2 linked regions of the Homo sapiens genome follow. The protein of the gene in region 1 interacts with the protein of each later gene in a biochemical or structural test. Each region holds a gene or a part of one and is shown in the gene's direction. Other genes may lie near its edges.

Evidence for each region.
Region 2: the proteins of RAB6B (region 1) and ERC1 form a complex in vitro, tested with the Homo sapiens proteins (one study listed by BioGRID).

The regions. Positions count from the first base shown.
Region 1 is NC_000003.12:133,829,735-133,840,139, reverse strand, and holds part of RAB6B (ras-related protein Rab-6B), read left to right. Parts: intron 1-522; coding exon 523-634; intron 635-1,880; coding exon 1,881-1,974; intron 1,975-5,498; coding exon 5,499-5,565; intron 5,566-10,405. UniProt on the Homo sapiens protein: The small GTPases Rab are key regulators of intracellular membrane trafficking, from the formation of transport vesicles to their fusion with membranes. Rabs cycle between active GTP-bound and inactive GDP-bound states.
Region 2 is NC_000012.12:992,677-1,003,081, forward strand, and holds part of ERC1 (ELKS/Rab6-interacting/CAST family member 1), read left to right. Parts: intron 1-10,405. UniProt on the Homo sapiens protein: Regulatory subunit of the IKK complex. Probably recruits IkappaBalpha/NFKBIA to the complex. May be involved in the organization of the cytomatrix at the nerve terminals active zone (CAZ) which regulates neurotransmitter release.

The DNA.
Region 1 (10,405 bases):
TCTGGCCTTCCCCAAACTCTCCTGAGCTCCCATGGTGGGGACACCACTCAGTAGGGCCCTTCCTTCCCTAGAGGCTGCTGTGTCCTCCTCTGCCCACCCTCACTGTTCCCAAACTTGCCAAGTCGCGCGCGCATGTGTGTGTGTGTGTGTGTATGCACACACACGTGTGACCCAGTTCTCACTCTCCACTCTGAATCCCCAGAGTCAGGTCTCTCAGGTGGGCCCCTAAAGCCACTATTCCATGTGGCAAATCATGACACTGTGATCTTCCAGATGGGGTGATTCCTCTCCCACAAAGGGTGGCTGAACAGTGCAAGTGGCTCCCCAGGGCCGCAGGGCAGGGCCCGGTTCCCTCTGAAAGGCCCTACCCAGCTGATCTGTGTTGACTGAGCTCACACCCCTCCCTGGGTATCTGAGGGCACATGCTCACCCTCCCTCCTGCTCCTGGCTCACACCTCCCCTTCCCATCTCCCACTGGTGGCTGGCCCTGGCTTTCAGTTTATCCTCACTTTCTGCCTCCAGATCTCAACTCCTTCCAACAGACCTCTAAGTGGATCGACGACGTCAGGACAGAGAGGGGCAGTGATGTTATCATCATGCTGGTGGGCAACAAGACGGACCTGGCTGATAAGAGGTAGGTGCAAGGGCACACAGGTGCAGGGTGCCACCCTCCACTCCTCTGTAACTGCTCCTGGACAGGGAGCTCTGGGATGCATGGGTGGTGTGTCTGTGCTTCTGACCATGCATCCGGAAAAGGTCCCTTGAGACACTAGGAGCTTTGAGGACACCTGGTAGACTCTCATCCATGGGTATCTCATCTGTGAAGCCCTGTCTTCCACCACCAGGCAGGGGCGGGGCACTTCTCCGTTTGCTGTCTACACAGAGCACTGTGCACCTGGCTTGACCCAGCAGTGCATGGTCTAAGGCCCTGCCATGGCCACAGCCCTGCCCCAGACACAGCAGTCCTCTAGGCCCCAGCGTGTGCACTGTGAACTGTCTGTGCCTGTGAAGTGTCTGCACCAATGTGCGTGGGGCTGTGAATGCCCTGGGCCCTAGGTGTGAGCATGCAGAGCATTCAGACCACAAACCTATGGCCGTAGCCTGCTTAGCCTGGTTTGTGGCTGCGTCTGGCATGAAGCTTTCTCTGAAGAGGCTCCTCCATGCTGCCCTCCATGCACAGGGAGAACTGAGGTGCCATGTGTGTACATTGTCCACTCATTTTACATGACCCTGACTTGGGCAGATAAAGTGACAGGCCATGGACTCCAGCAAGCAGTGTGGGCTTCCTGCAGCGTCCCTTGACCACCTGAGGAATCATCTGAATTAGAGCCTGCTTTACTAGAGTTCTGTCCTTAAAGTAAGGAAAACTGGGCTCAAATCCCAGTACAAAGGGTACCCAGGCCCTTCATACCCTCACCCACTTCTGCCTGCCCCATCATGGAGCCCTCTCTGCTAAGTAGCTTTGTGGCCCTGGGGGAGACACTTTTAGCATTAGTGTTCTCACAGGGAAAATGCGACTGATAATACCACCCAGAGTGGCACTGCCTGGCTTGAATCTCTTCATAAGCACAGGCTCTGCAGTAGTGACTACTGGGAAAGGCAGGTATGGGGCAGCCCTACCCCAGGGCCTGCTTTGAAGCTGAGAAGACACAAAGGAAGGAGTGGGGGAAGCGGATAGTGTCCTACTGTTCCCTGGTGCCTGCTTTGTGCTAGCGAGACTGTGGTTGGTGCCCGGGAGGGACCCTTGGGATCAGAGCCTGTCTTCAGGACTGACCAAGGGCCCAGTGGGCTCCCTCTGCCCTGCTGGGTGGGTCCCTCCTCATATCTGCCAGGGTCTGCTTCTCTGCTGAGCTGATTTCCCCCCTTCCCCTCATCTCTAGGCAGATAACCATCGAGGAGGGGGAGCAGCGCGCCAAAGAACTGAGCGTCATGTTCATTGAGACCAGTGCGAAGACTGGCTACAACGTGAAGCAGGTGAGGACACACCTGGCACGGGGCCCGGCACGGGGCCCGGCACGGTGTAGCCCTGTGGTCAGCTGCAGGCTCAGAGCTGCCTTGCCCTGAAGGGCTGGTGATGGGATTGGGGCAGCCAACCAGAACACCCATAGATGCGCCCAGGGAGGGGAGAGCTAATTTCCGGAGCTGGTAAAGCCCAAAAGAGGGAGGGACCACTCCGGGCATGGCATCTGGAGAACATAAGTCACCAGCCACCGTAGTAGTTGCCAGTCACGGCCCACGTAGCAGGCCCTAAGAGTGTCCAGCCACCAGCTTCCAGGAGGCTGAGGGAAGCAGTGGTTCCCTAGCCCCTCACCCCACTTTGGATGACAGGTGCAGGAAAATTCAATCTGATCAGCATTTGGGGTTCATGCCTTGCGCTTAGCAAGTGCTCAGGGCTGTGGAGGGCAACTCAGGCCTGGGGGAAAGAGCCTACCATGATGTGGTTGGAACTCACAGGAGGGCGAGGCAGTGGAGTTAGGGCTGAGCCTTGCAGCATGAGGGCCCCTGAGTAGTCCATGGGTGGAATTTAGCAGGTCAGCAGACAGGGCTGGAAAACATTGCACCTTTATCTTCACTAACCACTGACCCGTCCGTAGCACTGAAGGACGTCTGATTTGTCCTTCAATGATGAATGTAGGCAATGACACTCAGTCACATTAGCAGTGCCTATGGCTTTACCACCAATAGAAATCACAGATGCCTTCCCATCACCTCATAGTGTTGCAGGTATCTTGAACTTCACATCTATCAGTGTTTCAGCATCACACTACTTATTAGATCTCTTGCTAGTTCTCGCTGTTCAATGTGTTTCATAAGGAAGCACAAATGTCGATGAAGTTTTATTTCAGTACTCAGTAGTCCCCTTTATCATCCTATGTAATTGATTTCACATACTTCAAAGGAGTCCATAGGATTAACCAGATTGCCAGAGGGGTCCTTGGCTCACGGAAGGGTTAAGAACTCCTGCCGTTGGGGATGAGAAGGACTTGGAGAGGTGGTGAGGAGGGAGGGCATGCCAAGCAGGGGAGCAGCAAAGGTGTGGCTGCAGGGTGCCCGAGGTATGGGGAGGGGACTCTGGGTGAGGAGTGTGGTTGGCCTGGCGGTCGCTTCTGCCCTGCCACCCCAGCATTGCTGGGAACCCTTGGCAAGCTGTGTATACAGCACTGGCCTTCTGGATGCAGTGATGGTTTGCCCTGTGTGGACAGTGCTGGTGGCAGTGGGGAAGGTGGGCTGGCAGAACGACAAGAAGAGACAAGAAGGGTGGAAGGGACACTATGTGACACTGGGGGCCCCAAAGCTCCAGGACTCAGTGCCCCACCCTAACTAGAGTGTCCTCATCAGGGCTTCACTCACTCCCATCTGTTCCCAGCCTCCCTTGGTGTGGGGCTGAAGCTGTCATGGTCCTTCCTGCTCCCTGGGGGCATGCAGGAGAGACTGGGCTGCTACTCTTTGGGAGCCCTAAAGTCATGGGAAGCAGGGAAGCAGAGGGAGGGCAGGGCAGCACCAGGAGGTCCATAGGGCAGGTAGCATCTGCCTCAGCCGTCAGGGTCAGGGAGGCACTGATGCCCCTACCCCCAGAGTGCTCTGGAACCCATGCAGTGGTTTAGCAGGAGTTAAATGTGGTCAGTTTCGAACCCTGTGTGGCTCAGAGGAGTGTCCATGCAGTGCAGACTCCTGGATCTAAATGTGAGCATATCCACTCACAGAAACCCATACCTGACCCTAGAAACCCATACCTGATCCTAGAGCACCCTTCAAAATCCCTAGTGGCATTTTGGCCACTAGTAGAGGCTGTGACTGTTTTGAGAGCCAGACAGGCAGATCAGAGCCGCCCAGGGCCAATGCCATGAAGGAAAGCTCAGGAAGGATGGCCTGGGCCCTTTTACCCTTGCCTACTAATGGCTACCCCACTGCAGAGCCTCCTCTGCAGCCCGCCCACAAGGGTCTCACACCATGCTGGGCCCACCAGCAGCTTCCCCCCTTGGGCCCTCATGGCCTTTAGCCCTGTCACCCAGCCCGGGTGCTCAGCTGGGGCTGGGCTCTGGGGTGAGGCCATGAATAAGACTCACCCTGTCTTCAGAGAGCTCATGCAGTGGAGGGTATGAGCCCAGAGCCCACCCAGTTCCTGCAATTCACATTTGTGAGGACAGCGGGAGTGCTCCTGGGTTAGTCCTTTCAGGCTACCGTAACAAATCACTATAGGCAGGGTAGCATATAAACAGCAGAAATGTATTGCTTACAGCTCTGGAGGCTGGGAACTCCATGGTCAAGGTGCAGGCATATTCAGTGTCTGGTGAGGGCCCATTTCCTCCTAGATGGCACCTTCCTGCTGCATCCTCACAAGGTGGAAGGGGCAGACAGGCTCCCTCGGGCCTCATTCATAAGGGCACTCATCCCGTTCATGAGGACTCTACCCTCCTGACTAAGCACCTCCTAAAGCCCCACCTCTTTATACTGTCACATTGGAGATTCTGTTTCAACATAGGAATTTGCAGGGGGACCGGCATTCAGAACCTAGCAGTTCAGAGTCTTCTGTGCCTCATACTTCTGCCTCGTACCTGTCACCTCCAAGATTCCATCTCTGCCAGCACCCCATCTGCCACTTGCCACCTGTCCCCTGCCACCCACACCTGCCCAAACACACACACACACACACACACACACACACAGAAAACCCACATGTACGCAGACACACACCTTACCAAGGACACACACTATGCACACATTCCCCCCACACTTACACAAACACACACATAAAGATGCCACACGTTCACACACACCACACTCAAACATTCCCCCATATGCTTACACAAACATACATGCACCTACCCACACGCACCACTCACAACACACACATTTTCCACGCAGTCCTACAGATAAAACACATACACTGTACACACACTCCTACACACAATAAACAACTCACACTCCTACACATCCAAACAAGCCCACAAAATTGTGTTCACACTCCTGCATCCCTCGCGCTCTCAGAGAAGCCTCACCACTGTGCCCATGCAGCCCTGGCCCTGCTGTTCGCTGCCTTGGCGCCGGACCTGCAGGGCTCCCCAAGCAGAGTCATTCATCTCAAGGGCAAGTCACTTCCCCATGCCTGGTCCCCATGAGGGCTGTTTGCAGAAGCCCACCTTAAGGCCTGTCACCCAGAGGCCCAAACCATTTTCTGCACCAGAGGAAGTCCCTTGCAGTCACTGCCATGACCTAAGCTCATCCCAGTGACCCTATGGCCAGTCTGCTTGGGTGAGAGGCCACAGCTTTGTTCCTTCCTTCCACAAGCTACTGAGGCCTGCCCAGACCCAATGCTGTGAGAGGTGGGGGAGAGAGAACATAGGCACAGCCCCTGCCTTTGAGGGCACCGTCCGCTGGGCAGATGGGAGAGTAAAGCTGCAGGTTGGGAGGGGAAGAGGGGTGAGGGTGCAGGTGCAGTGAGGAGCAGAGGGGAGGGCCAGGGTTGGGGTTCACACTGCATTTCTTCATCTTTCCAGCTTTTTCGACGTGTGGCGTCGGCTCTACCCGGAATGGAGAATGTCCAGGAGAAAAGCAAAGAAGGGAGTATCCTTTTCCTTTGACAAGTGAGTGAAAAGATGTATAGAAGCCATTTATTCACTGAATATGTTAGTGCAGTGGACAGACACTCGCCCAGTCCCCGCCCAGCCTTCCCTGGTCTGCCGCGAATGGCACGGGGCCTCCTCTAGGCGGGATGCAGCTGAACCCTATGGTTTGGAGCCCCCGTCTGGCTCTAACCATCTACTTCTTCTTCCAGAATAGCAGGAAGATACCAAAGGGGTGTGCACAGAGTGATGCTGTGGGGTGGGGAGTGAGAAACAGCGACTTTGCCCTTCTTTACAGCGAGCATGTTTATGGGTTTCATGAACACAGGCAGAGTCTCCACTGCAGGGAAGTCTCTGTCACTGGGGATATGATCTCAACGTGGTTCAGTCTACTCAAGACAGCTCCCCCCTTCAGACAGATGCCCCCTCCTTGTCCCGCCCACCTTCTCTACCCAGCCCTGAACAGCTCCTGAGGCTCCCCACTGATCTGTGGGACCATTGCGCATCACCCACAAACCAGCCCCAACCTGAAGAGACACCTAGATGCTGAAACTGAGGTTCAGAGAGGTAGTCTGGTTTGCCCAGTGTCACACAGCATGTAAGTTACAGTTAGGATTCACACTCAGGCTTGCTTCCTCCATATCCAGCCCTATTCCATGTGGGACACTGTCCCTCTAAGGGCATTTGAGAGAATCAGATGAAAACTGTTTCAGCAGGGGAAGCCATTGCCCACACCTGGGCCTCCCCTGCATCTAGTCAGATGTCCCTGCCTGAGTAAGCCACCAGAAAACAAGCATGCAGATCCCTGGCTGGCATCCTTTACAGTGGACCTGTCCCTACACAGCAGCTCTCCAACATCCCCCACTGATCCTATAGGCCTCTGAGGGTAGACATCCCTGACAGATCAAAGAAGGGCCCTGGGAAGATGGAAGGGCACCTTTGGGCTGATGAGAATCAAAAGCAAAAGAAGCACACAGCTTAATGTTGGAGGCCTCATGGAGCTGCTGGGGCAGGGCGGGCAGGACACCAGGAGTCCCAGGGCTGCAGCAAGGGGGAGCCTGACACAGGCCTGGAGGGAAGCTAGGCCTCTCCAGCCTTGCTCAAGGAGCTCTCAGAGCAGACTCGAGACCCACCCCCCGGGGGGGTCAGGAAGGCTCACCAAGGAGCAGGTGCCCCAGCAGTCCCACGGTCTGTGTGTCACCAGAGGACAAGCAGTGGCCGAGAGGAGGGGGTTTGAGGAGTATCTCCTGGTTGGTCAGTTATGAGACTCCAATCACAGATAAGGAAACTGAGGCTCAGAAACTTAAACTAGGGCACCCCACGGCTCTCAGTAGCAGAGACAGGCTCCAGAGCTCAGGAGAGAGCCCCTGTGGAATCACCTGTCACATGGGACTCCTTTGAGGTTCCAGGAACATACAGAAGCCAACCTGAAGGGCAAACATAGGAGCAGGAACAAGGGAGAGGGGCAGACAAGGTGCAGGCGATCTCCGCTGTGCCTGCCAGCAAGGGGAAGGGTTGCACTGCCCGCTCTCCATCCCACCAGCTCCCAAGGTGTGGCACACTGGCCGGGGTGAGTGGTGATCGTTTCATTCACATTCTCCCAGAGTCGCGCTGTTGAGGGCTCCAGGCTGGGCCCACAGTCAGGTCAGACTGGGCTGAGTGCAGGGTGACAGTGAGCTCGTCATCGTCCTGGTATGCCTAGCGTTTCATCCAGCTACCACTGACCTTTGGGCCCCTTGGGAGAAAGGATACATGGCAGGTTGCAAACAGACTGCACAGGGTGTTGTGACCTGTGTCCCTTTTTCTAGCTAAGGGGTCCCCTCATCTGGGTAGATGTACCCCCATCCTTTCACTTCTGCCCAGGAGCCAGCTTGCTGGGCCTCTCACGAGGCAGGTGCTAGAGCGGCCACCAGAGGTCCCAGAGGGACCAGGCAGAGGCAGCCGTCATTCTGCTTCTTTCGGGATGGGGTGTTGGCATTTCTGCTTACTCACAGTCCAAATCCAGGTGTTTTGAAGGTGTGTGCTTTGGGGTCATGTTCATAATTGTGTTCCACATTGAGAGCAGCCACACAGAAGCACTGCTTTGTGGCGCTGTATAAACTGTTCACACCTGGCCTCACTTGCTCAGCTCAGGACTTGGTGAATGTGTGGCATGAGGTTTCCGTCTGCTGCTTGCAGGTCTAGATGGGGGGCTGCTGCACCTCTTCTTCACGTTCGAGACAGGAGGACCCCTCAGGGCCGCTCTGGCCAATACTTCTGCCCAGCAGCACCCTCCACTGGTCTGCTCTCAACAAAGTAGGAGCCAAGGGGCCACCAAATGGTAGAGCCATAAGCCCCTTACTGGTTCTACATACACAACCCCCCAACCCCCACTTTCTACCCAAATACAGTATGCGCCCATCACATGGGCCCCAGACTGTTTCTGAACAAGGCTGGCTTACGCAAAGAAAGAGCAGTAGTGTGGGCACTTCATGAAGTGGCTCTAAGCAGGTGAGGACAGTGACGCCGCAAACCAGATAGAGCATGCTCAAGGCCTCCCAGCTCCTTAATTCAGAGCTGGAACCACATCCAAATGACTGGATTCCACAGCCCTGTTGCACTCTCTGATGGGGCTGTGGTGTGCTTTGACATTCCAGATACAGACAGGATTGTGCTGCAGTAGAGTCAGAGGCACTGGGATTGGGGAAGCATATCCAGCAGTAGGGGGTAAGTTTGTAACAGGCTGTCTGGGCCCACCCATCACTTCCAGGAACCAGGGAGAAGGGACATTGGGCACTGAATGTGGCCCGTGATGGGCCACACTTGACCCAGAGGGAAGAGGCGGGTGTGCTCTGGCCATGCCTGCCGGAAAGGCACATATCTAACCTCTTGAGGCTTGTGAGAAACCGTGAGTTTCCCCTTCTGGGACATTATTTAGACATGGGTCCAGTCATTCTTCCCTGTCCTCTCAATCAGCGGGCAGCCCCTGAGCACTGCATTTCAGCAGCATGTGGCGTAACAAGGAAGGAGGTGTCATTAAATGAGAGCCTTTGGGAAGGCTCCTAGCGGAAGAGCTGGGCCTGTGCTCTCCAATTCTGCAGCCACATGTGGGTGTTCCGACTTAAATTAGTTAAAATTCAGTTGAATTAAAAGTTCATTTCCTCACTTGCACTAGCATCCTTGCAAGTGCCCAGTTGCCCATGTTGCTAATGGTGACATCTTGGACAGTGCAGATATAGAATATTTCCATCACTGGAGAAAGTTCTTTGGACAGTGCTGTTCTAGAAGTATCAGTAGAATTGGTTTCCCGGATGTCTGTGCATTGGGACTCTCCAAAGAACTTGTTAAAAACACACATCTGGGGCCCATCCCCACATCTACCAAGGTAGGACCCAGTGAGACGTATTTTTAACAAACATCCCAGAAAATTTTGATGCAATCCATTTGAGAACTATTGCTGTGCAGTGTACAAAAGTATTGTGATCAAATTGCGCATGAGATTGTTTTAGTGGTCGTAGGTGACTTCAATACTGGGCAGAACGTAATGCTGTAACAGTGGCCAACCTTCAAGCTAGACCACTAGTTCTCAACCAGGACTGATAGCCCTTCCCTCCCCTCCCCACAGGGGACATTTGGCAATGTCTTCAGACGTTTTGGCTCACCATAAATTGGGGGAGGGGGAATGGGGTTTAACTGGCATCTCATAGATAGTGGTCAGGGATGCTTCTGAACATCCTCCGTGCACAGGACGCCCTCATAACAAGGAATTGTCTGGCCCAAAATGTCAGTAGTGTTGAGTTTGAGAAGCCCATCCACAAGGGGCTTAGCACAGCCAGGTCAGTGAAAGTAGAAGGCTGGGGTCAAGATAGCCTTGGGTTTGTACCTGGGCACCTCAGCTTCCCAGCTGGAAGGTGGCTCTTTTACTCCCCACTGCACGAGGTCTAATGTGGAAGTGAGGTAGCTCTCAGCAGGAGAGGCCACTAATGCGTGCACCCTGGCCCAAGGAATGAGGACATTTTTACAGGTGGAGATGGGGAGGAAGGCTGGGTGTGGGGGAGGGAGCATCACTTCTAGAAGGAAAGAACAGCATGAACAAAGGAAAGAAGGAAAGCATAGGACGTGTTTAAAGCAGGGAAAATCTGGTTGGTGGAGCCTTGGTGTGTGATTGAGGGAAGGGGATAAGCTAGCGTCAACAGGTGCTTGGGGTGACCCTAAATGGGGAGGCCTTAAATGCCAGAGTGAGAAATCCGTGGACACTTTGTTTCTGTAGCAGAGTGTGACATGATTGTCACCAGAGCTGGCTTTGGGAAGCCACCATGCTGAGAGAGAGCTGGCTGGGCTCAGAGGGGCACTCAGAGAAGACCAGGAGACCTCAAGGAGGCCTGTGCCCAGGCCAGCAATACAGAACAGGACTGCACTGCCGGCATGGGCCATAGAACTGCAGCTGGCAGAGAGAAACAGCAGGGCATTCCTGGCAGTGGGTTTACCAAAAATGATGGGCAGTAGAGAAGCAGGCTGCTTGACTAGGGTAGAGAGAACAAAAGGTGGGCTGCAGTGGGCAGTGGGAAGGAAGGCACTGGCTTAGTATCTATTTACTCATTTATAGGCTGCCATGGTATAAGATACATATACATACACACAAGATAAAGTTGTATGTGTATGTGTGTACACACACACATGGGGAAAATAAAGGTAGGAAAAGCAAAGAAAAGTCAGAGATAAAGTCATACTCAAAATGTATGCCATGGCCGCATGGTTGTTAGAGGTGGCCAAAAAGTTGGCTCTGAGCATCCTCACAGCCAAGGCAAGGAAAGAGAATGTGAACTTCAGGAGAAGCATGGCTTTTCATAGTACTTAAAACA
Region 2 (10,405 bases), on another chromosome or scaffold:
CACAACTTAGCACTGTAAATCAGAATCTTCTTTTCTGGATTCTTGCTCCCTGTTAGATTACAGTATTCTCTGGCCCTACTTATCAGTTAGTGTCATTTAAGCTATTTCTTGTTCAGAAAACAGGTCCCATGATGGACATGTATTATGTAATGGATGGAAGTAGACATGGCTCTCAATAATTCATTTATGGAGGAAGAGAAGCTGTCAGAAAGTGGGATTTAAGCAGTGACTTTCCCAAGGCTTGCCTAGTTTATTTGGGAAAATAGCCAGAGAAGTGCTTTCTTGTAACCCAAAAGAGAAATATACAGATAAGAATTTCAGTAGTTGCAGATCGTTGCTTTTTCTAAGTGCCTACTTAATGAGCAGATTATTGTCTTCCAGCAAATACTTCTACTTTATAGAGAGGTATGGGAAACAGGACATAATAGGTATTAAGTGAGAAAGTGTGTGTTCCAATTTTTAATTATAAATAAAAGATTTAATTAACTGTATTCAGTTAATTCATTTGGTAAAGTGAACAGTTTTGACTTTGGATTAGTTAGAAGGAAAACAAAATTGACATATCTAGTTTTCGCTTTTAAATTATACATAGACTTAATTAATTGGGACAAATGTGAACTAAGATACTGGGTAAAACTTGTGTGTACTCCTAAAATGACATTTGCATGGCTGGTAGTAAGCTGTGATTCTTGTCCTTGTAGGAATGAAATCACATAATTTGGGGAAAGTCTTAAGGTAAAAGTAAGCTATTTCGTTTAGCATTTCTTGTGCCTGAAATTATGCCTACATTTTATTTTTCAAAAAATGTTGCTTGCTAGTCATTACTTGTGATATCCTTGTTGAGTCTACTGAGGTGTTTTTTTTCCTTCATTACCTGTGTCATAGATAAGTATGCCAGTCTGTTAATTCAACATTAATACTGCAAACTTAAAAGTGAAGGTTCTTGGCCGGGCGCCGTGGCTCATGCCTGTAATCCCAGCACTTTGGGAGGCCGAGGCAGGCGGATCATGAGGTCAGGAGTTCGAGACTAGCCTGGCCAACATGGTGAAACCCTGTCTCTACTAAAAATATAAGAATTAGCTGGGCGTGGTGGCACATGCCTGTAATCCCAGCTACTCAGGAGGCTGAGGCAGAAGAATTGCTTGAGCCTGGGAGGCAGAGGCTGCAGTGAGCCGAGATCATGCCACTGCACTCCAGTCTGGGCTACAGAGCGAGATTCCATCTCAAAAAATAAAAATAAAAATTGGCTGGGTGTGGTGGTGCACACCTGTAACCCCAGCTACTCAGGAAGCTGAGGCAGGAGAATTGCTTGAACCTGGGAGGTGGAGCTTGCAGTGAGCCGAGATTGCACCACTGCACTCCAGCCTGAGTCACGGCAAAACTCCGTCTCAAAAAAAAAAAAAAAAAAAAAAAAAAAAAGTGAAGGTTTTCATAGCAACAGCTGCTCGGTTTTACACTATGTTTACATTTAGAAGTATGAGAGTTGTTAAATGTGTATTTTACACATATTTCATCAGAAACATTAATGGAAAAAGATCAAGAAATGAAGTATTTTGGTTTAAGAATCAGTAGTACATTGATTATCAGTTTTCAGAGACATATAGTAAAATAAACTTAGCATACAGATTATGTGGAATATAATTTGTTTTTTTTTCTTATTTATTTTTTGTGTGTGGAATGTAATTGAAATCTGTTGCTCACCAAGTCTTTCAGTGTACTAGAGTTTGGGTTCTGGGGTCAGAGTGCCTGAGTTCAAATCCTGGCTTTGCCATGGTATGATGTAGGGCAAACTGCTTAATGTTGTTTATTTCCTAACCTTAACCTGTACCTTAATTTCTTCATCTGCAAAATAGAAATAATAACAGTAGTACCTAACCTCTTAAGCTGGTCAAATGAATTAATTCATGTATTTAGAACAGTTTGGGCACATAATTAGCTGGTTCACTAACATCATTTGAAGTTTAACTGTGTATACTATTTTTACTTAATAAGTATATATTAAATACATATTATGTACCACATATTCTAGATGCTGGTATCATAGTAGTGAACAGTTCTCCCAGCACTTTGGGAGGCCGAGGTGGGAGGATGGCTGGGCAACATAGCGAGACCATGTCTCTACAAAAATAAAAAAATTAGGCCGGGTGCGGTGGCTCACGCCTGTAATCCCAGCACTTTGGGAGGCCAAGGCGGGCGGATCATGAGGTCAGGGGTTCGAGACCAGCCTGGCCAGCATGGTGAAACCCCGTCTCTACTGAAAATACAAACAATTAGCTGGGGGTGGTGGCGCGTGCCTGGAATCCTGGCTACTCGCAAGGCTAAGGCAGGAAAATCTCTTGAACCCAGGAGGCGGAGGTTGCAGTGAGTGGAGATCGTGCTATTGCACTCCAGCCTGGGTGACAGAGCAAGACTCTGTCTCAAAAAAAAAAAAAAAAATTAGCATGGCAGTATGTGCCTATAGTCTCAGCTACTCAGGAGACTGAGGCAGGAGGATCACTTGAACCTAGGGGTTCGAGGTTGCAGTGAGCTGTCATTCCGTCGTTGCACTCCAGCCTGGGCGACAGAGTGAGGGAAGGCTATCTCAAATAAATAATAAATAAATAAAAGTACGGGCAGTAGTCAGGAGCTTATGCTGTATTGTTCCAGGTGAGGGTATCTCTGACCAAGGTGAAATGGGGAGGAGGGGTTGGATTTTGTATGTATTTTGAGGGTAGACCTATAGAATTTGTTGGTGGTTGTTTGCGGGATGTGGGCCAAACAGAAGAATAAAGAATAAGGTTTTTGGCCTGAATAACTGGAAGAATAAAGTTGCCAGTAACTGAATTGGAGATGGTAATTCATGGAGCATGTTTGTGGAGAAACCAGAAGTTCAGGGTGATGTCCAGGAAGAGTGAGAAATGTGGCTGTTTTCAGCTTCTTTGTAGTATTTATGATTATGAGATAGGTGAGATCATCAGGGGAGTGAATTTTGGTGGAGAAGAGATCCAAACATCTGAGCCTAGGGGACTGATTCATTCACTTATTCATTCATAAGTTACTTAGTGAGTATGGTTCTTCTAGGTACCTTTTTAGGCATTGGGGATATAAACCTGACAAAAGTTTTCACCTTCATGGAACTTACCTTCTAGATACGTGAGGGGAAATCAAGAGGAACCAGTAAAGGAGAGTGATAAGAAATCATTGAGTTAGGAGGGAAACCAGGGGAGTATGATATTCTAGAAGTGAAGGAAAGGAAGCTTTCAAGAAGGAGGGAACGGTCAGCGGTGTCATTGTTTAAAGTTGTGTCAGAATGTTGAGTAAGAGAGAATTCTGCTTGATTATGATGTCTAATAACAGGGAAATGACTAAATAAGTTTTAGTGTGAGATAGATGAGACAAATGTAAGAGTCTTTTAGTTTTTTACTTCTCTGTTTTTTTTGTTTTTTTTTTTGAGATGGAGTCTCTCTTTGTTGCCCAGGCTGGAGTGCAGTGGCGCAATCTCGGCTCACTGCAATCTCCGCCTCCTGGGTTCACACCATTCTGCCTCAGCCTCCGGAGTAGCTGGGACTACAGGTGCCCGCCACCATGCCTGGCTTTTTTTTTTTTTTTTTTTTTTTTTTGTATTTTTAGTAGAGACAGTGTTTCACTGTGTTAGCCAGGATGGTCTTGATCTCCTGACCTCATGATCCGCGCGCCTTGGCCTCTCAGAGTGCTGGGATTACAGGCATAAGCGACCACACCTGGCCTCATTCTCCGGGTAGATTTTTAAGAAATATTTCAGCCAGGCACAGTGTCACATGCCTGTAGTTCCAGCTGCTCTGGAGGCTGAGGCAGGAGGATTGCTTGAGTCCAGGAGATCAAGGCTGTAGTGTGCTATGATTGCATATGTGTATAGCCACTGCACTCCAGCCTGGGCTACATAGTGAGACCCCATCTGTAAATTAAAAAAAATCATTCTTTTCAGAACAAAATAGGCAACCTGGGAGTGCTAAGGAAAGGCACATGACTTCTTATTGTTGTTGTTAATTTTATGTACACTTATTTTAAGAAATAGGTAATATATGTACTAAATTAGAAGGTATAAGAGAATACACAGTTAAAAGTCTCTCCTATCCCATCTAGTTCTTTCTGAAGGCAATCACTGTTTGCAGTTTCTTGTTTTTTCTTTTTAGCCAGTGAAATTTTGTGTAATAGGACATTACCTATTCTAAAATTGCATACATATAAGAAACATTTTATCTTCCACTCTGACACTGAACACTGGCAATATTTTATACTTTTTGAGAAGGGTCTTGGTCTGTTACTCAGTCTGAAATGCGATGGTGCGGTTATAGCTTACTGCAACCTTGAATTCCTGGGCTCAAGCGATCTTCCCACCTCAGCCTCCAGAGTAGCTGGGACTGTAGCCATGTGCCACCATGCCTGGCTAATTAAAAAAAATTTGTAGAGAGACAAGGCGTCATTATGTTGCCCAGGCACTATTTTAGAATAGCTTATTTAAAAGATAGTTTTAGAAGCCTGTCAAGGGAAATAGTGACTGCTAGGATCAAACATGGATTCACTAAGTCACATCAGACAGTAGTTGCCTAGAATTGACTTGGTTACTTGACTGATAAATAAAGGAAATGCAGTAGTTGGAATTTATGTATACGTCAGCTAGGCTTTTTCATGTCGTCTTTGTGGAAAGTACGAACATATGTGTCCTAGATTTCTTGAGGACAGGAACTATCTATTAGATACTTATTAAATACTTGATGAATGAATGGATGCTAGCATAATAATGTGAATTCACAAGTTGAATACCCAGGAAATAAAGAGGTGCTTGTTGAGGATCTTGGGTTTGAGGAACTTGGTGTTAGACTCATCCATACATTTATTGAAATGACACAGGATGGTAGCAAGACTGGTGGCATAGAGGATAATGGCAGCTGTGAACTAGTTGCCAGCATATCCTTACTGAGTATGGGGGATGTCCAGGTGGTCATTAGCTGATAGTGAAGAGGTAGAGGTTGAAGACTGTGCTGCTGAATAGCATGAGAATTAGACTAAGATTTTACGTAAGGGTTTGGGAATAGTGGTCTGGAACTGGCACTGGCAGGAAGGAAGGTACCAGCCTCATTTCCCAGTATTGGGTGTGGAGTGGAAGAGACTGAGTAGCTTTCACTTAAAAGGACTATATGAGAAGAGGTGTCCTGATTGGAAAGTCAGCTTTCAGTTAAGGCAGAGAGGTAGCAAGAACATTTCCCAAGGAAGTTGAAGACTTTTAGAGGAGTTTCTTGATAAAAGAATGAAGTTCCATGAGAGTGTATTTTTCCACCCTATTGGCTTGTTATCATCATTTAAACTTTAAAATGTCTCTTCATCTTAATAAAAAACTCCAGATTTATACTTTATTGCTCTAAGTTGCTCTCTGCTTTACACACTTAAGAGTTTTCTGCATTTGCTGTGTATCTCCATTTCTTCACCTGTGACTTCTCAACCTATTTCTGTCTTGTTTCTATCGCCATTATTTCAGTGAAACTGAAAATAGCTAGTGAAAATATGTATGAAAATAGCCAATGTCTATTTTACTATCCTGTTCTTATTTAACCTCTTAGCAGCTGTGCTAGTTTCTATTGGCTATATAACAAATTACCCCCTAACTTAAGAAACATTTATTGTTTCACAGATTTTGTAGATCAGGAATGTGGGTGCAGTTGGCACCTATGATTCAGGGTCTCTCACAAGGCTGCAGTCATCTCAAAGCGCTACTTGGGGAGGCTGTTTCCAAGCTCACTCATGCGGCAATTGGCAGGCCTGAGGTCCTTGTTGGCTGCTTGCTGGAGAGGTGAGTCCCTTGCCATTTGGGTTTCTGCGTACGACTACTTAAAATATGATATCTCAGTGCTTCTGTCTTCAAAAGAGGACAGATATTAGCCAGAATCTTTTTGTAACCTTATCTTGGAAGTGATGTGGTATCACTTTTGTTGTATTCTGTTATCAGCCAGTCACTAGGTCCAGTGCACTCAAGGCAGGATTTCACAATTGCATGAATGCTGGGAGGCAGAGATCACTCATAGCCATTTCAGGACTGTCTACCACAGCAGCATTTGACAGAGCGGATACCCCTCCTTCCTTTGTAAAGCTCTCTCTTCTCTTGAGGTCTTCAGAGCACTTTTCTGTTTTTCTTGCTGGTTCTCTGGGCTCTTTCTCTGTCACTTTTTTTTTTTTTTTTTTTTTTTTGAGGCAGAGTCTTGCTCTATCGCCCAGGCTGGGGTGCAGTGGCACAATCTTGGCTCACTGCAACCTCCGCCTCCTGGGTTCAAGTGATTCTCCTGCCTTAGCCTCTTGAGTAGCTGGGATTACAGGTGTGCACCACCACACCCAGCTAATTTTTGTATTTTTAGTAGAGATGGGGTTTCACCATGTTGGCCAGGCTGGTCTCGAACTCCTGGCCTCAGGTGATCTGTCTGCCTTGGCCTCCCAAAGTGTTGGGATTATAGGCGTGAGCCACCGTGCCTGGCCTCTCAGTCACCTTTTGAGTCTTTCTGTGCTCATTTATTAAATGTTTGAATTTCTTTGGGCTTTCTCATCGCTTTCTATTTCATTTTTCATCTGTGTGCTGAGTATTCATTTTTATGTCTTCAGTTTTTACCTCTCTCCTGAGTCTGAGGACCACTCTATCGAATTGCTACTGAATGTTTCCATTTGGATGCCCCTTAAACCGAACACATCCAGAACGGAATGTATGATTCCTACACTTCCTCTGGTGTTTCTTAATTTGTTAAATGACACCACTGGGTGCTTAAGCCGGAAATGTGTGTGGTGTTCTTGATTTCTCCCTCTCCTCCACCTTCCATTTTACTATTGCTTTTTATTTTTCTAGAGCCATGGCTGTTCAGTGATGGTGTGAATGTTTCTATGAGGTAGTGCATCCTCTGCCAGGTTGCAAGCATTGAACCTGGTGCTAGGTGATTTTTTTTTTTTTTTTTTTTTGAGATGGAGTTTCACTCTGTCGCCAGGCTGGAGTGCAATGGTGCAACCTCCGCCTCCCGGGTTCAAACGATTCCCCTGCCTCAGCCTCCCGAGTAGATGGGATTATAGGCGTGCACCACCACGGCCAGCTAATTTTGTATTTTTAGTAGAGACGGGATTTCTCCATGTTGGTCAGGCTGGTCTCAAACTCCTGACCTCAGGTGATCCGCCTGTCTTGGCCTCCCAGAGTGCTGGGATTACAGGCGTGAGCCACTGTGCCCAGCCCGCTAGGTGATTTTTAAGATTCCTTCCAATCTTGAGATACTGCGTGTGTAGCTATTGAAGATTTCTGAGTAGGAGATGCATGATCAGGGCTGTGCTTCAGAAAGGTGGCAACTCTTGAACAGTCATTTTTAGTTGTTCACCAAAGAATGAAACTAAACACCTGTATTCTTTTTAACTTTATTATGGTGTGCTAAGTGATGAATAGATAATTTTTATGTGACAGCCCTTTTGTATATATTAGTTTCATTTTTTCTCATTGTTAATGCATTTATGTTTGGAAGCCCTTTTGCATGGAAATAAGATAATCAGGCCAGGCACAGTGGCTCACGCCTGTAATCCTAGCACTTTGGCAGACTGAGGTGGGTGGATCACTTGAGGCCAGGAGTTCAAGACCAGCCTGAGCAACGTGGCGAAACCCCATCTCTACTAAAAAATAAAAAAATTAGCTGGGTGTGGTGGTGCACGCCTGTAATCACAGCCACTCTGGAGGCTGAGGCATGAGAATTCCTTGAACCCTGGAGGCGGAGGTTGCAGTGAACTGGGATTACACCACTGCACTCCAGTCTGGATGACAGAGCGAGACCCTGTCTCAGAAAAAAAAAAAAAAATAACCCAATGGGATGAAAATTTTGGGATGAAAATTTGTGTGAACTTAAATTAAGTGTCTCTGCCATCCTGGCCAACATGGTGAAACCCCGTCTCTACTAAAAATACAAAAATTAGCTGGGTGTGGTGGTGTGTGCCTGTAGTCCTAGCTATTTGGGAAGCTGAGGTGAGAGAATCGCTTGAACCTGGGACGCACAGGTTGCAGTGAGCCAAAATCACGCCATTGCACCCAGCCTGGTGACAGAGCAAGATTCTGTCTTAAAACAAAAAAAATTAAGTGTCTGAAATTGTAAAAACTTCTCAAGAAATAAAATTCAGACCTTAAACATAATTTTACTGTAGGAATATAACTTACCTTTTGAAGGAATTCTTTCTTGAAGCCATTATTTGTGTATTTATTTATTTTTAATTAACTTTTTTGTTTGTTTGTTTTTTTGAGATGGAGTTTTGCCCAGACTGGAGTGCAGTGATGCGATCTCGTCTCACGGCACCTCCCAGGTTCAAGCGATTCTCCTGCCTCAGCCTCCCAAGTAGCTGAGATTACAGGTATGGGCAACCACGCCTGGCTAATTTTTGTTTTTAGTAGAGATGGAGTTTCACCATGTTGGCTAGGCTGGTCTCAAACTCCTGACCTCAGGTGATCTGCTCACCTCGGCCTCCCAAAGTGCTGGGATTACAGGCGTGAGCCACACTGCCGGTGCTTGCCACCTTGCCTGGCTAATTTTAAAACTTATTTTTGTGGATATTGAGTTTTGGTTTTTTGTCTAGGCTGGCATCGAATTCATAGCTTCAAATGATCCTCCTGTCTTGGCCTCCCAAAATGCTGGGATTACAGGCATGAGCCACTGTGTCCGGCCTTGAAGCCCGTCTTGAATGTAACACATATGTAGAAAAGTATGTAAAACAAAAGTAAAGCTTTACAATTTATGAATCAGACACTTGTATAACCATGATGTAGGTCAAGCACTAGGACCTTACTGACATTCCACAAGCTTTCCTTGAAGCTTCCCAATCACAACCCAGTCCTTCTCTCATAAAGGTAATCTCTGTCCTGATTGTAGGAGAATCACCTTCTTTTTTTGTGTGTGTAGACCTTTTTAGTTTTGGCTTAGTTTTGATTGTTTTGCATCTTTATATGCATGGAATCATATTGTATGTATTCATGTCTGGCTTTGACTCAACATTTTGTTTGTAAGATTTAGATTTGTATGTAGCTGTTCGTTCATTTTCATTGCTAAATAGTATTCCATTGTATAAATATACTACAGTTTATTGTATTATTGATGGATATTTAGGTTGTTTCTAGTTTTGGGCTATTATGGATTATGCCACTATGACTATTCTTGTAAAGTCTTTTTTTTTTTTTTTTTTTTTTCCTGAGACGGAGTCTCGCTCTGTTGCCCAGGCTGGAGTGCAGTGGCGCAATCTCTGCTTACTGCAACCACCGTCTCCTGGGTTCAAGTGATTCTCCTGCCCCAGCCTCCCGAGTAGCTGGGATTACAGGTGCCCACCATCACACCCAGCTGTTTTTTTGTATTTTAAGTAGAGATGGGTGTTTGCCATGTTGACCAGGCTGGTCTGGAACTCCTGGCTTCAAATGATCCACCTGCCTCAGCCTCTCAAAGTGCTGGGATCACAGGTGTGAGCCACCATGCCCGGCTTTTTTTTTTTTTTTTTTTTTTTTTTTTTTTTTGAGACAGTTTCACTCTGTCGCCCAGACTGGAGTGAAGTGTTGTGATCATGGCTCACTGCAGCCTTGACCTTCTGGGCTCAAGTGATCCTCCCACCTCGGCCTCCCAAGTAACTGGGACTACAGGTGCATACCACCATGCTTGGCTAATTTTTTTTTTTTTTTTGGTACTTTTTTGTAGAGATGGAGTTTTACTATGCTGCTCAGGCTGGTCTTGAACTCCTGAGCTCAAGTAATCTGCCTGCCTTGGTCTCCCAAAGTGCTGGGACTACAGGTGTGAGCCACTGCACCTTGCCTTGTGCAAGTCTTTTAGTGCATATGTGTATGTAATTCTTTTGTGTATTTGGCCAGGAGTGAAAGTCCTGGGTCATAGGATATGCATATGTAGAATTTTAGATAATTGCCAAACAGTATTCCTTCTTTGTGGTTCTACAAATTACATGCCCCAAAGAGTGTTTGAGAGTTCATTTTGTTCCATATCTTTGCCAATACTTAGTATTGTCACTATTATTAACTTTAGCCGTTCTGGTGGATTTGTAGTAGTATCTCTTGGTTTTAATCTGCATTTCACTTATTACTAATGAGGTTGAATAATTTTATGTTGGTTACTTAGGAAACCTTTTGTGAAATGCTTATTCACATGTCTTGCCCAATTTTATCTTTTTTTTCTTATTATAGGAGTTCCTTATATATTTTGGATATGACCCCTTCTTTGGTTATTTGTGTTGCAAATATTTCCACCTTACTCTGTGGCTTGCCATTTAAGACTTCTTAAGGAGGCCAGGCACCGTGGCTCATGCCTGTAATCCCAACACTTTGGGATGCTGAGGAGGGTGGATTGCTTGAGTCCAGGAGTTCGAGACCAGCCTGGGCAACATAGTGAAACCCTAT